3 linked regions of the Homo sapiens genome follow. The protein of the gene in region 3 interacts with the protein of the main gene of each other region in a biochemical or structural test. Each region holds a gene or a part of one and is shown on either strand. Other genes may lie near its edges.

What was found.
Region 1: the proteins of INPP5D (region 3) and GRB2 interact in a test that uses a peptide from one of them, tested with the Homo sapiens proteins (2 studies listed by BioGRID).
Region 2: the proteins of INPP5D (region 3) and CRK interact in a test that uses a peptide from one of them, tested with the Homo sapiens proteins (one large-scale study listed by BioGRID and IntAct).

The regions. Positions count from the first base shown.
Region 1 is NC_000017.11:75,395,597-75,399,246, reverse strand, and holds part of GRB2 (growth factor receptor-bound protein 2), read left to right. Parts: intron 1-3,650. UniProt on the Homo sapiens protein: Non-enzymatic adapter protein that plays a pivotal role in precisely regulated signaling cascades from cell surface receptors to cellular responses, including signaling transduction and gene expression.
Region 2 is NC_000017.11:1,449,583-1,453,232, forward strand, and holds part of CRK (adapter molecule crk), read right to left. Parts: intron 1-3,650. UniProt on the Homo sapiens protein: Involved in cell branching and adhesion mediated by BCAR1-CRK-RAPGEF1 signaling and activation of RAP1.
Region 3 is NC_000002.12:233,164,797-233,168,446, reverse strand, and holds part of INPP5D (phosphatidylinositol 3,4,5-trisphosphate 5-phosphatase 1), read right to left. Parts: intron 1-3,650. UniProt on the Homo sapiens protein: Phosphatidylinositol (PtdIns) phosphatase that specifically hydrolyzes the 5-phosphate of phosphatidylinositol-3,4,5-trisphosphate (PtdIns(3,4,5)P3) to produce PtdIns(3,4)P2, thereby negatively regulating the PI3K (phosphoinositide 3-kinase) pathways.

The sequences.
Region 1 (3,650 bases), on a different chromosome or scaffold from region 3:
TCCTGGTCACCACACACACACACACACAAAAATTAGCCAGGCATGGTGGTGTGCACCTGTAGTCCCAGCTACTTGGGAGGCTAAGGCAGGAGGATGGCTTGAGCCAAGGAGTTTGAGGCTGAAGTGAACCATGATTGCTCCACTGCACTTCAGCCTGGGCAATAGAGCGAGACTCTGTCTCAAATAATAAAAGTAAATAGGCTGGGCGCAGTGGCTCACGCCTGTAATCCCAGCACTTTGGGAGGGCAAAGTGGGCGGATCACCTGAGGTCGGGAGTTCAAGACCATCCTGGGCAACATGGCGAAATCCTGTCTCTATTAAAAATAGAAAAATCAGCTGGTCATGGTTACAGGCACCTGTAATCCCAGCTACTTGGGAGGCTGAGGCAGGAGAATCGCTTGAACCCAGGAGGTGGAGGTTGCAGTGAGCGGAGATCACGCCACTGCACTCCAGCCTGAGGGATAGAGCAAGACTCTGTCTCCAAAAAATAAATAAAAATAAATAAAAGTTGTCAATAGATTACCAAAGAACTCACCAAAAAGATTGAGCTGAGCTCATTAATTCCTTGCTGTAGTGTGGGTTCTGTGGTGATTTTATTATTATAATGTAACACCAAGCCACATTGTCAGTTAGTAACTTCTCAAAATGTTGAGTCAGTGGACACCGGGTAGGGTAAAAAGTCTTTGTGCCTGGTGCGGTGGCTCATACCTGTAATCCCAGCACTTTGGGAGGCCAAGGCAGGCAGATCTGTTGAGCTTAGGAGTTTGAGACCAGCCTGGGCAGCATAGGGAGACCCCATCTCTACAAAAAAAAATGAGTAGGCTATGGTGGCTGGTGCCTGTAGTCCCCACTAAGGAGGCTGAGGTGAGAGGATCCCTTGAGCCCAGGAGGCGGAGGTTGCAGTAAACCAAGATCACGCCACTGCCCTCCAGCCTTTGCTACAGAGTGAGACCCTTTCTGAAAAATAAATAAATAAATAAAAGTGTGTTTACTCAAAGTATTGCAGATTGGATTTTATAAATATTTTTAAAATTTGCCAATTAGTATATGAAAACTCTGATTGTTTTAATTTGCATTTCTTTTCATATGTTTTAAATAGAGTAACATTTAAAATTTCTTTTGAAGGCTGGGTGCAGTGGCTCATGCCTGTAATCCCAGCACTTTGGGAGGCTGAGGTGGGAGTTTGAGACCAGCCTGGCCAACATGGCGAAACCCCATCTCTACTAAAAATGCAAAAGTTAGCCAGGCTTGGTGGCGCGCACCTGTAGTCCCAGCTACTTGGGAGGTCGAGGCAGGAGAATTGCTTGATCCTAGGAGGCGGAGGTTGCAGTGACCTGAGATCGTGACACTGCAGTCCAGCCTGGGCGACAGAGCTAGATGCTGTCTCAAAAAATAAATAAATAAATAAATAAATAAATAAATAAATAAATTTTGAGTGATTATTACATGTCGGGCTCTATCCAGAGCACTTAATGTATGTTATATATGTTGTCTAATTTAATCCTCAGTGGATCTTATAAGGTAGATATTCTCATTTTACAGATGAGAAAACTGGAGCTTGTTTCACAACTTTGCCCACAACTGTAGCTGTAAGTGTGAGGGGCCTGCCTCTAGAGACCATGAAGATTCAACACTAAGCTATACTGGACTGTTGTCATGTATTTTATTTTCTGTGAATTTTGGGAAGAAGAGAGTTAAATGGAAGAAAGAAAAAAAATCTTGCAAATACCTTTAGGATAGTAGTTTTTTTGGATACAGTAGACATTGTTTGAAATGAATGATTAAAGCTGTACTTACCTTTCTTAAAATTCACTGCTTGGGATGGGCTGGTAACAGTTTCGAGGTTACTCTCATTAGGCTTCAGTGTTAAGTACACTATACCCCATTTTCTTGGGAAGTGAACAGCAACATCTACTCTGTTAAAATCATTATACATTGTGTCTGCTTTCAGATTTCTTCCTTTTAGTAATTAGTGTTGTGTATGTGTTAGATTTTTTTTTGTCTTTACTGAAACACACCCTTTGGAATTCCTTTAGCGAATATGCTCTTTTGGGTGGATAACCTAATAAGCTTTCCTCTTTGAGTTTTCTGTTTTTTTACTCAGCACAGCCATGGAAGTAGGGATTTAATTTTCTGTCAAACTCTGCATCTCACAAAGCAATAGTTACTCAAAACACGACTTTCAAGAAGGTTATTCTTTTTAAGCTTTCAGCAGATGAGCTGAGTAGCAGCAGGAAAGCAGGTATTGAGAACTGTCTTGGTTTTTGTACTGCTGTTGAGTAGTAACATTGCAGCTGTCTTAAATCCTGAATGACACAGAAGCTTATGGCTGGTCGTACTACATAGCACCTTGAAAGTGACAGGGCTTTTCATTTCTATCTGATTTCTGTTTTTCAAAAATAAAACTCCTTATTCTTTTCCTATCATTGTAAATATTCTTCAGCTTCCTATCACTAATACATAGTCTCGGCATTAGAGACCAGTTAAAATAAATAGGCTGAGGAAAATCTTGATAGTAGGAGAGATTTTGGAGCATTCATTAAAAGTAAAAATAGGGCTGGGCGTGGTGGCTCACTCTCCCCTGTATTCCTAGCACTTTGGGAGGCCGAGGCAGGCAGATTGCTTGAGGCCAGGAGTTTGAGACCAGCCTGGGTCTTAAAAGGTAGATATTATTCTCATTTTACAGATGACGAAACTGGAGCTTGTTTGAAAAGTTTGCCCAAAATTGTAGCAGTTAGCGTGAGGGGCCTGCCTCTAGAGACCATGCAAATTCAACACTAAGCTATACTGGACTGGTCTCACATAGTGAGACCCTGTCTCTACAAAAAATAGAAAAAGTAGCCGGGCATAGTGGCCCACACCTGTAGTTCCAGCTACTTGGGAAGCTGAGGCATGAGGATTACTTGAGCCAAGGAGATCAAGGATGCAGTAAGCCATGACCATGCCACTGCACTCGTGCCTGGACAACAGTGCAAGACCCTGTCTCAAAAAAAAAGAGAAAAGAAAAAGTAAAAGTAGATACACAGGGAACTAGGCAAGTAAAAAATAGAACATTAAGCAGTTGCTAATGCTGGGAAAAATCTAAGGATTGTACAAAAAAGTATGATTGGGTCAGGCACAGCGGCCGATGCCTGTAATCCCAGCACTTGGGGAGGCCAAAGTGGGCGGATCACTTGAGGCCAGGAGTTCAAGACCAGCCTGGCCAACATGGTGAAATCCCGTCTCTACTAAAAATATAAAAAGTAGCCAGGCTTGTTGGCACATGCCTGTAGTCCCAGCTACAGGCCGAGGTAGGAGGATCGCTTGAACCTGGGAGGTGGAGGTTGCAATGAGCCGAGATCATGCCACTGCACTCTAGCCTGGGCAATCTTAGAGAACTCTATCTCAAAAAAGAAAAAAAAAAAAACACAAAAAGTATGATTGGTTTTAGTGCATTATTTAAATTATCAGTGAGTAGTATTTCATAACATACTACTGATTAAACCAGAATATGTGATATTACTGGTATAGGTCGGGGGAAACTAAATCTTCACCTTTCAGGCAATAGATAATGGCTGGAATAAACTGAGAAAGCAGTAAAAGCACATTCTTTAGAAATACTCTATCCATTTTGTGCATTGACCACAAGATTTAAAAAAAGAAAAATAAGT
Region 2 (3,650 bases), on a different chromosome or scaffold from region 3:
AAGGCCCAACCCAGGATCCACAGCTCAAGCTTATAACGACTCTCCTAACTCACACTCCTTCAGCTGTGTCAACCTGAAAGGTTTAGCTGTTCAAGAGAAAAAAAACTAGTTTCTTGCAAGCATTCCAAGGAGGTCCATCTTGAAGCCCAACCTGACAGAATGTGACCAGTAGACTTGGCCAAGCCCTTCCTTATGGCCCCAGGGAACTCCCAAGCTATGGCACCACAGGAAGCCTATGCAAGCTGAGGACCCAAGACAAGTTAAAAACAGGTTCAACGGAAAAGGCTGAGAATCACTGGCCCATTCTGTACCCATGCCTTTAAAAATAATACCCAGCTGCGCACGGTGGCTCACGCCTGTAATCCTAACACTTTGGGAGGTCAAGGCAGGTGGATTACTTGAGGTCAGGAGATCGAGACCAGCCTGGCCAACATGGTGAAACCCCCATCTCTACTAAAAATACAAAAAAATTAGCTGGGAGTGGTGGCGCATGCCTGTAATCCCAGCTACCTACTCAAGAGGCTGAGGCAGGAGAATGGCTTGACCCGGGAGGGGGAGGTTGCAGTGAGCTGAGATCGTCCCACTGCACTCCAGCCTGGGCAACAGAGCAAGACTCTGTCTCAAAACATAAATAAAGTTTAAAAAATAAGGCGCGGTGGCTCAGGCCTGTAATCCCAGCACTTTGGGAGGCCAAGGTGGGCGGATCACGAGGTCAGGAGCTCAAGACCATCCTGGCTAACACGGTGAAACACCTCTCTACTAAAAATACAAAAAATTAGCCGGGCATAGTGGCGGGCGCCTGTAGTCCCAGCTGCTCAGGAGGCTGAGGGAGGAGAATGACGTGAACCCGGCAGGCGGAGCTTTCAGTGAGCCGAGATCGCGCCACTGCCCTCCGGCCCGGCGTGGGCGACAGAGCGAGATTCTGTCTCAAAAAAAGAAAAAAAACACATAAAAATGACACCTAAGCCATTCCATATAATTTTCACCTATGCACTGTGTAAACAAAATATACTCTGTAGGCTAGATGCGATGGCTCACACCTGTAATCCCAGCACTTTGGGGAAGCCGAGGCGAGCGGATCACTTGAGGCCAGGAGTTCAAGACCAGCCTGGACAACGTGGCAAAACCCCGTCTGTACTAAAAATACAAAAAAATTGGCTGGGCATGGTGGCGCATGCCTGTAATCCCAGCTATTTGGGAGACTAAGGCAGGAGAACTGCTTGAACCCAGGAGGTGGAGGGTACAGTGAGCTGAGATCGCGCCACTGCACTCCAGACGGGGCAACAAGAGCGAAACTCCCTCTCAAACAAAACAAAACAAAACAAATAGGCCGGGCGCGGTGGCTCACACCTGTAATCCCAGCACTTTAGGAGGCCGAGGCAGGCAGATCACAAGGTCAGGAGATCGAGACCATCCTGGCTAACACGGTGAAACCCCATCTCCACTAAAAATACAAAAAATTAGCCGGGCGTGGTGGCGGGCGCCTGTAGTCCCAGCTACTCGGGAGGCTGAGGTAGGAGAATGGCATGAACCCCACGGGGCGGAGCTTGCAGTGAGCCGAGGTCGTGCCACTATACTCCAGCCTCGGTGACAGAGCGAGAAACTGTCTCAAAAAAAAAAAAAAAAAAAGCAATAACAATTTTAAAAAGCTTCTTCATCATTGACTTTAGATAGCAGATGTGTATTGTCTGAATAATAAAGCCAGTGGCACGATCTCAGCTCACTGCAACCTCTGCCTCCGGGGTTCAAGCGATTCTCGTGCCTTAGCCTCTCCAGCAGCTAGGATTACAGGCGTCCGCCACCACGCCCAGCTAATTTTTGTATTTTTTAGTAGAAACAAGGTTTCACCATGTTGGCCAGGCTGGTCTCGAACTCTTGACCTCAAGTGATCCACCCTCCTTGGCCTCTCAAAGTGCTGGAATTACAGGCATGAGCCACTGCGCCCGGCCTCTTCTTGCCATTCTTTAATTCTGGTCTTTAAAAAACCTGGGCTGGATGCGGCTGTATGTGCCTGTAGTCCCAGCTACTCACAGCCTGAGTCAGAAGGGCTGCCTGCCCCAAAGTTAAGGGCTGTAGTGCACTATGACTGTGCCTGTCAACAGCCACTGCACTCCAGTTTGGGCAACATAGTGGGGGGAAAAAAAAACAAAAAACACAAGGCCGAGGTGGGCGGATCACCTGAGGTCAGGAGTTCGAGACCAGCCTGGCCAACATGGTGAAACCCCGTGTCTACTAAAAATACAAAAAAAAAAATTAGCTGGGCACAGTGGCACATGCCTGTAATCCCAGCTACTCGGGAGGCTGAGGCAGGAGAATCACTTGAACCTGGGAAGCAGAGGTTTCAGTGAGCCGAGACTGCACCACTGCACTGTAGCAGCCCGGGGGGCAAGAGCGAAACTCCATCCAAAAACAACAAAACAAAAAACACCAAGTCTTAGACTCCAGGGCAGAGGCAAAGTATTGAGGATATTGAGGATACGGACCTCTATGTGCACTGCTGAGATGCCAAAAGAACGCTGGCTTTGAGAGTGTAGTGTAAAAGGGTCAGCTCTCAGGTCAGAATGCCTAGGTTCAACTTCTGAAAGTCATTTATTAGTTGTGTGACCTTAAGCAAGTTACTGAATCTATGAGTGTTTCCTCCTGTATAAAATGGGAATATTTTAATAAATGGAGATCATATTACTTATCTCACTAGATTGTCCTAGACAGTAAGTGAAATAAGGTACATAAAGTACTCAAAGTACCTGGCACAGAATAACCAGTCAATAAACATTAGTTATTAATATTCTATACGCCTCTCTAAAAAATTCAAGAAATTTCTCTGTGTGACTTCAAAAGGACTTGGTGAGGGGGAGAACAAAGATTCAGTACTTAGTACTTGAGATTTGTGAGGTACAAAGTAATTCTGAGGTTATACAGACAGGCCAGGCGCTGGTGGCTCACGTCTGTAATCCCAGCACTTTGGGAGGCCGAGGTGGGTGGATGATCAGAGTTCAGCAGTTCGAGACCAGCCTGGCCAACATGGTGAAACCCCATCTCTACTAAAAAAATACAAAAATTAGCTGAGCATGGTGGTGGGCGCCTGTAATTCCAGCTACTCAGGAGGCTGAGGCAGGAGAATTGATTAAACCTAGAAGGCAGAGGTTGCAGTGGGCCAATATCGCGCCATTGCGCTCCAGCGTGGGAGACAAGAGTAAAAACTCGGTCTCAAAAAGAAAAAAAAAAAAAAAGACAGCAACTGACCAGGCACAGTGGCTCACACCTGCAGTTCCAAAACTTTGGGAGCCTGAAGCATGAAGTCTATTGAGATCAGGAATTTGAGACCAGCCTGGACAATACCGTGAGACCCCTCATCTCTACAAAAAAATTTTCAACAGTTAACCAGGCATGGTGGATACGCCTGGAGTCCCAGCTACTCAGGAGGATGAAGTGGGAGGATGGCTTGAGCCCAGGAGGTCAAGGCTGCAGTGAGCTGTGTTCATGCCACTGCACTCCAGCTTGGGTGACAGAGGCTCTGTCTCAGAAGAGAGAAAAAGACAGCAACTGAATCGTAGAAAATGGGGTACAACATGGCAGAAAGAATTATCACAATACTCGTGAATTTTCCACACCCCATCCATAAACTTTGGCAATCTTCACCGTCTTTCCTC
Region 3 (3,650 bases):
GGAAAACGCTTGTTAACCCCTGCTCTAGGTGATTCTGACACATGCAGGTGAGAACCTGCTCTGTCCAATACAGGCACAGGCCACATGTGACTATCAAACACCTGAAATGTGGCTGGTACAAAATGAGACAGGTTGTGAGTGTAAAATACACATTGGAATTGTGGCCTTGGTAAGAAACACAGACTGTAAAATATCTAATAACCTTTTACATTAAATATCTATTGAAATAATTGTATTTTGGATGTATGAAATTCAATAAAATCTATTATTGAAATTAATTTCACTTGTTTTCTTTTTAATGTGGCTACTAGAAAATTTGATCTATTGATTGTAATAAATCAAATTGTAATCTATTTTGATCATAAATCTATTTATTTATGATCTATTTGGCTCCCATCATTTTCTTTTCTTCCTTTCTTTCTTTTTTTTTTTTTTTTTTTTGGAGACAGAGTCTCACTCTGTCTCCCAGGCTGGAGTGCAGTGGCGCGATCTCTGCTTACTGCAACCTCCGTCTCCCAGGTTCAAGCAATTCTCCTGTCTCTGCCTCAGGAGTAGCTGGGACTACAGGCACCCACCACCACACCCAGCTAATTTTTTGTATTTTAGTAGAGACGAGGTTTCACCGTGTTGCCCAGGTTGGTCTCAAACTACTGAGCTCTGGCAATCTGCCTGCCTCAGCCTCCCAAAGTGCTAGGATTACAGGCGTGAGCCACGGCACCCGGCCCCATTTTCTTTTGGTTGGACAGCTCTGGATAGGCCATAGGCTGAAGGGACCCCTGGATATCACCTGGCTCAACCTTGTCAGGACCCAGTGGGGGAGTACACAGGCTTTCTGCCCTCCAGCCCTCTCCACTGCACCTAGCTCTCCAGCCCTGCCCCTCTGCCCGCAACCTGGGAGGGTGACCTGGAACTGAGCAACTGGTTCCAGTCCCGACAGCCTGGTTTCAATCCCTGCCCACCACATTCTTATCCCGGGGCCTTGGGCAAGTTATGGATCATCTCCATAGACTCTGTTTCTTCATCTGCAAATGGGAATAATAAGAGTCCCTGCCCGAGTGTTTGTATTTTTTTTTCTAATTTGAGACAAAGTCTGTGTCGCCCAGGCTGGAGTGCAGTGGCAAAATCATGGCTTTCTGTAGCCTTGACCTCCCAGATTTAAGTGATCCTCCCACCTCAGCCTCCTGAGTAGCTGGGCCCACAGGCATGCACTACTATGCCATTTTTTTTTTTTTTTTTTTTGTAGAAATGGTACCTTCCTATGTTGCCCAGGCTGGTCTCAAACTCCCGGTCTCAGGAGGTCCTCCCACCTTGGCCTCCCAAAGTGTGGGATTATAGGCATGAGCCATCGTGCCTAGCAGGGTGTTTATATCAAATGAGATGATTCAAAGCATTCAGCACACAGCCTTGCTTAGGGCACACTCTTAGAAAGGCCTTGGTTGTTCTAAGGACTTTTTTTTTTTTTTGAGATAGAGTCTCGCTCTGTCACCCAGGCTGGAGTGCAGTGGCATGATCTCAGCTCACTGCAACCTCCACCTCTCGGGTTCAAGCGATTCTCCTGCCTCAGCCTCCCAAGCAGCTGGGATTACAGGTGCGCACCACCACATCCAACTAATTTTTGTATTTTTAGTGGGATGGGATTTCACCATGTTGGCCAGGCTGGTCTCGAACTCCTGACTTCAAGTGATCCACCGGCCTCGGCCTTCCAAAGTGCTGGGATTACAGGCGTGAGCCTACCACACCGACCAGCATTTGCTGTTTCTGTCCTGTGCTAATTATGGCTGGGAGCCATTTCAGGGGAGTGGAGGAGGGAGGCTGGCCCCAGGGCAGAGAGGAGGGGAAGGAGGGGAAGGAGGGGAAGGTGTGTGTGAGCTGCACAGCCCAGAAGCTGCCCTGCAATGGTCATAAAGCTGGGACTCTGGCCAGGCCTTTCTCCTCACCCCTCAGATGCCAGTCGCACTGCCCTTCTCAGGGAGGCCCCTGACCTCTGCTCTCTGCCCACGCCACACACTCCTTCGCCAGTGCACTCCCTCCCAGGAACTGGCTTCTTTTCCTCCCGTCTGCTCATGCAATGTGTGTCAGGTCCACATGAGCAGAGCTCCTGCCTGCTCAGAAGCTGACCCAGTGCCCAGCCCTGAGGCCAGGATGACCAGGAACTGGTCTGGCTGAGGGGGTGGTTTTATGTGGCCCTAGGAGGTCCGAGCATATTCTGCACAGCGGGGCAGGGGCTGGTGGGAGGGACTGGAAGCCCAGGGAGCGATGGAATCCACACCCGGGGCGGTTGCTGGGCAGCAGGAGGGCGTGGGCGCAGCCAGGATAGCCACGCCAGCCCCACCCTTCTACTGTGGCAGGAAGGAAGGGGGACGAGTGGGGGTGGACGCGGGCAGTTTGCGGTTTGTCAGCAGAAAAGTTGAGAGAGCTTTGCACGTTCGATTGCAGCAATTCTTCTATTTCCTGTTATCTCTGGGACTCTGTCCTGTTCCTGACTCCACTGACTCCAACCACCAAAAACCACTGGCCTCGCCCCTGATGCCAGCCCTGGAGCCCTGTGTGTATACCACCCCACGTGCACACACGGGCACACACACACACACACACAAACACACAGAGAGGCTCTAGCACTTATGCACATGCACTCGGACACCCACCCTCACATACCTAGACTCTCATAAACACACACTCACAAACACAGACACATGGACTCACAGATACTCACACACTCATAGATATGGGGTGGTACACTCATACATGGACTCACATACATAGACTCACATAAACACACTCACAAACACATGCATGGACTCTCACACACTCATAGATACGGGGTGGTACACTCACACACAGATGCACATAAACACACACTCACAAACACACATGCATGGACACACACACATAGACACTCACACACTCATAGATATGGAGTGGTACACACACACGGACTCACATACATAGACTCACATAAATACACTCACAAACACATGCATGGACACACACACACTCATAGATACGGGGTGGTACACTCACACACGGACTCACATATGTAGACTCACATAAACACACACAAACACACATGCATGGACTCACACATACAGACACTCACACACATAGATATGGGTGGTACACTCATACACGGACTCACATACATAGACTCACATAGACACACTCAAACACATGCATAGATTCACACACATATAGACACACACTCATAGATATGGGGTGGTACGCTCACACATTGACTCACATAAACATGCTCACAAACACACATCCATAAACTCTCACACACCTACACAGGCTCACACACTCACATGCACGCTGTCACTCACACAAACTCACATACACAGACCTACTCACACACACATCCTACACAAACACACAGGCTTGCACTCCTACACTTATGAAGACTTCTTGCCCTTGTTACTGCTCTCTGAAGCCAGCAACTCTCCACTGACACCAGCGTTTCCAGATCCAACCTGGTGCACAGGGACCGAGGGCAGGGGCCAGCCACCTCCCGCCTGTGCTTGTAAGGAAGGTCTCACTGGTAACACAGTCACTCCCATTCGCTTTCTGGGTTGCCTATGGCTGCTTTCCCACCAGAAAGGCAGAGAGGAATAGTGTTGAGTGGCCTGCAAAGCCTGAAATATTTACTGTCAGGC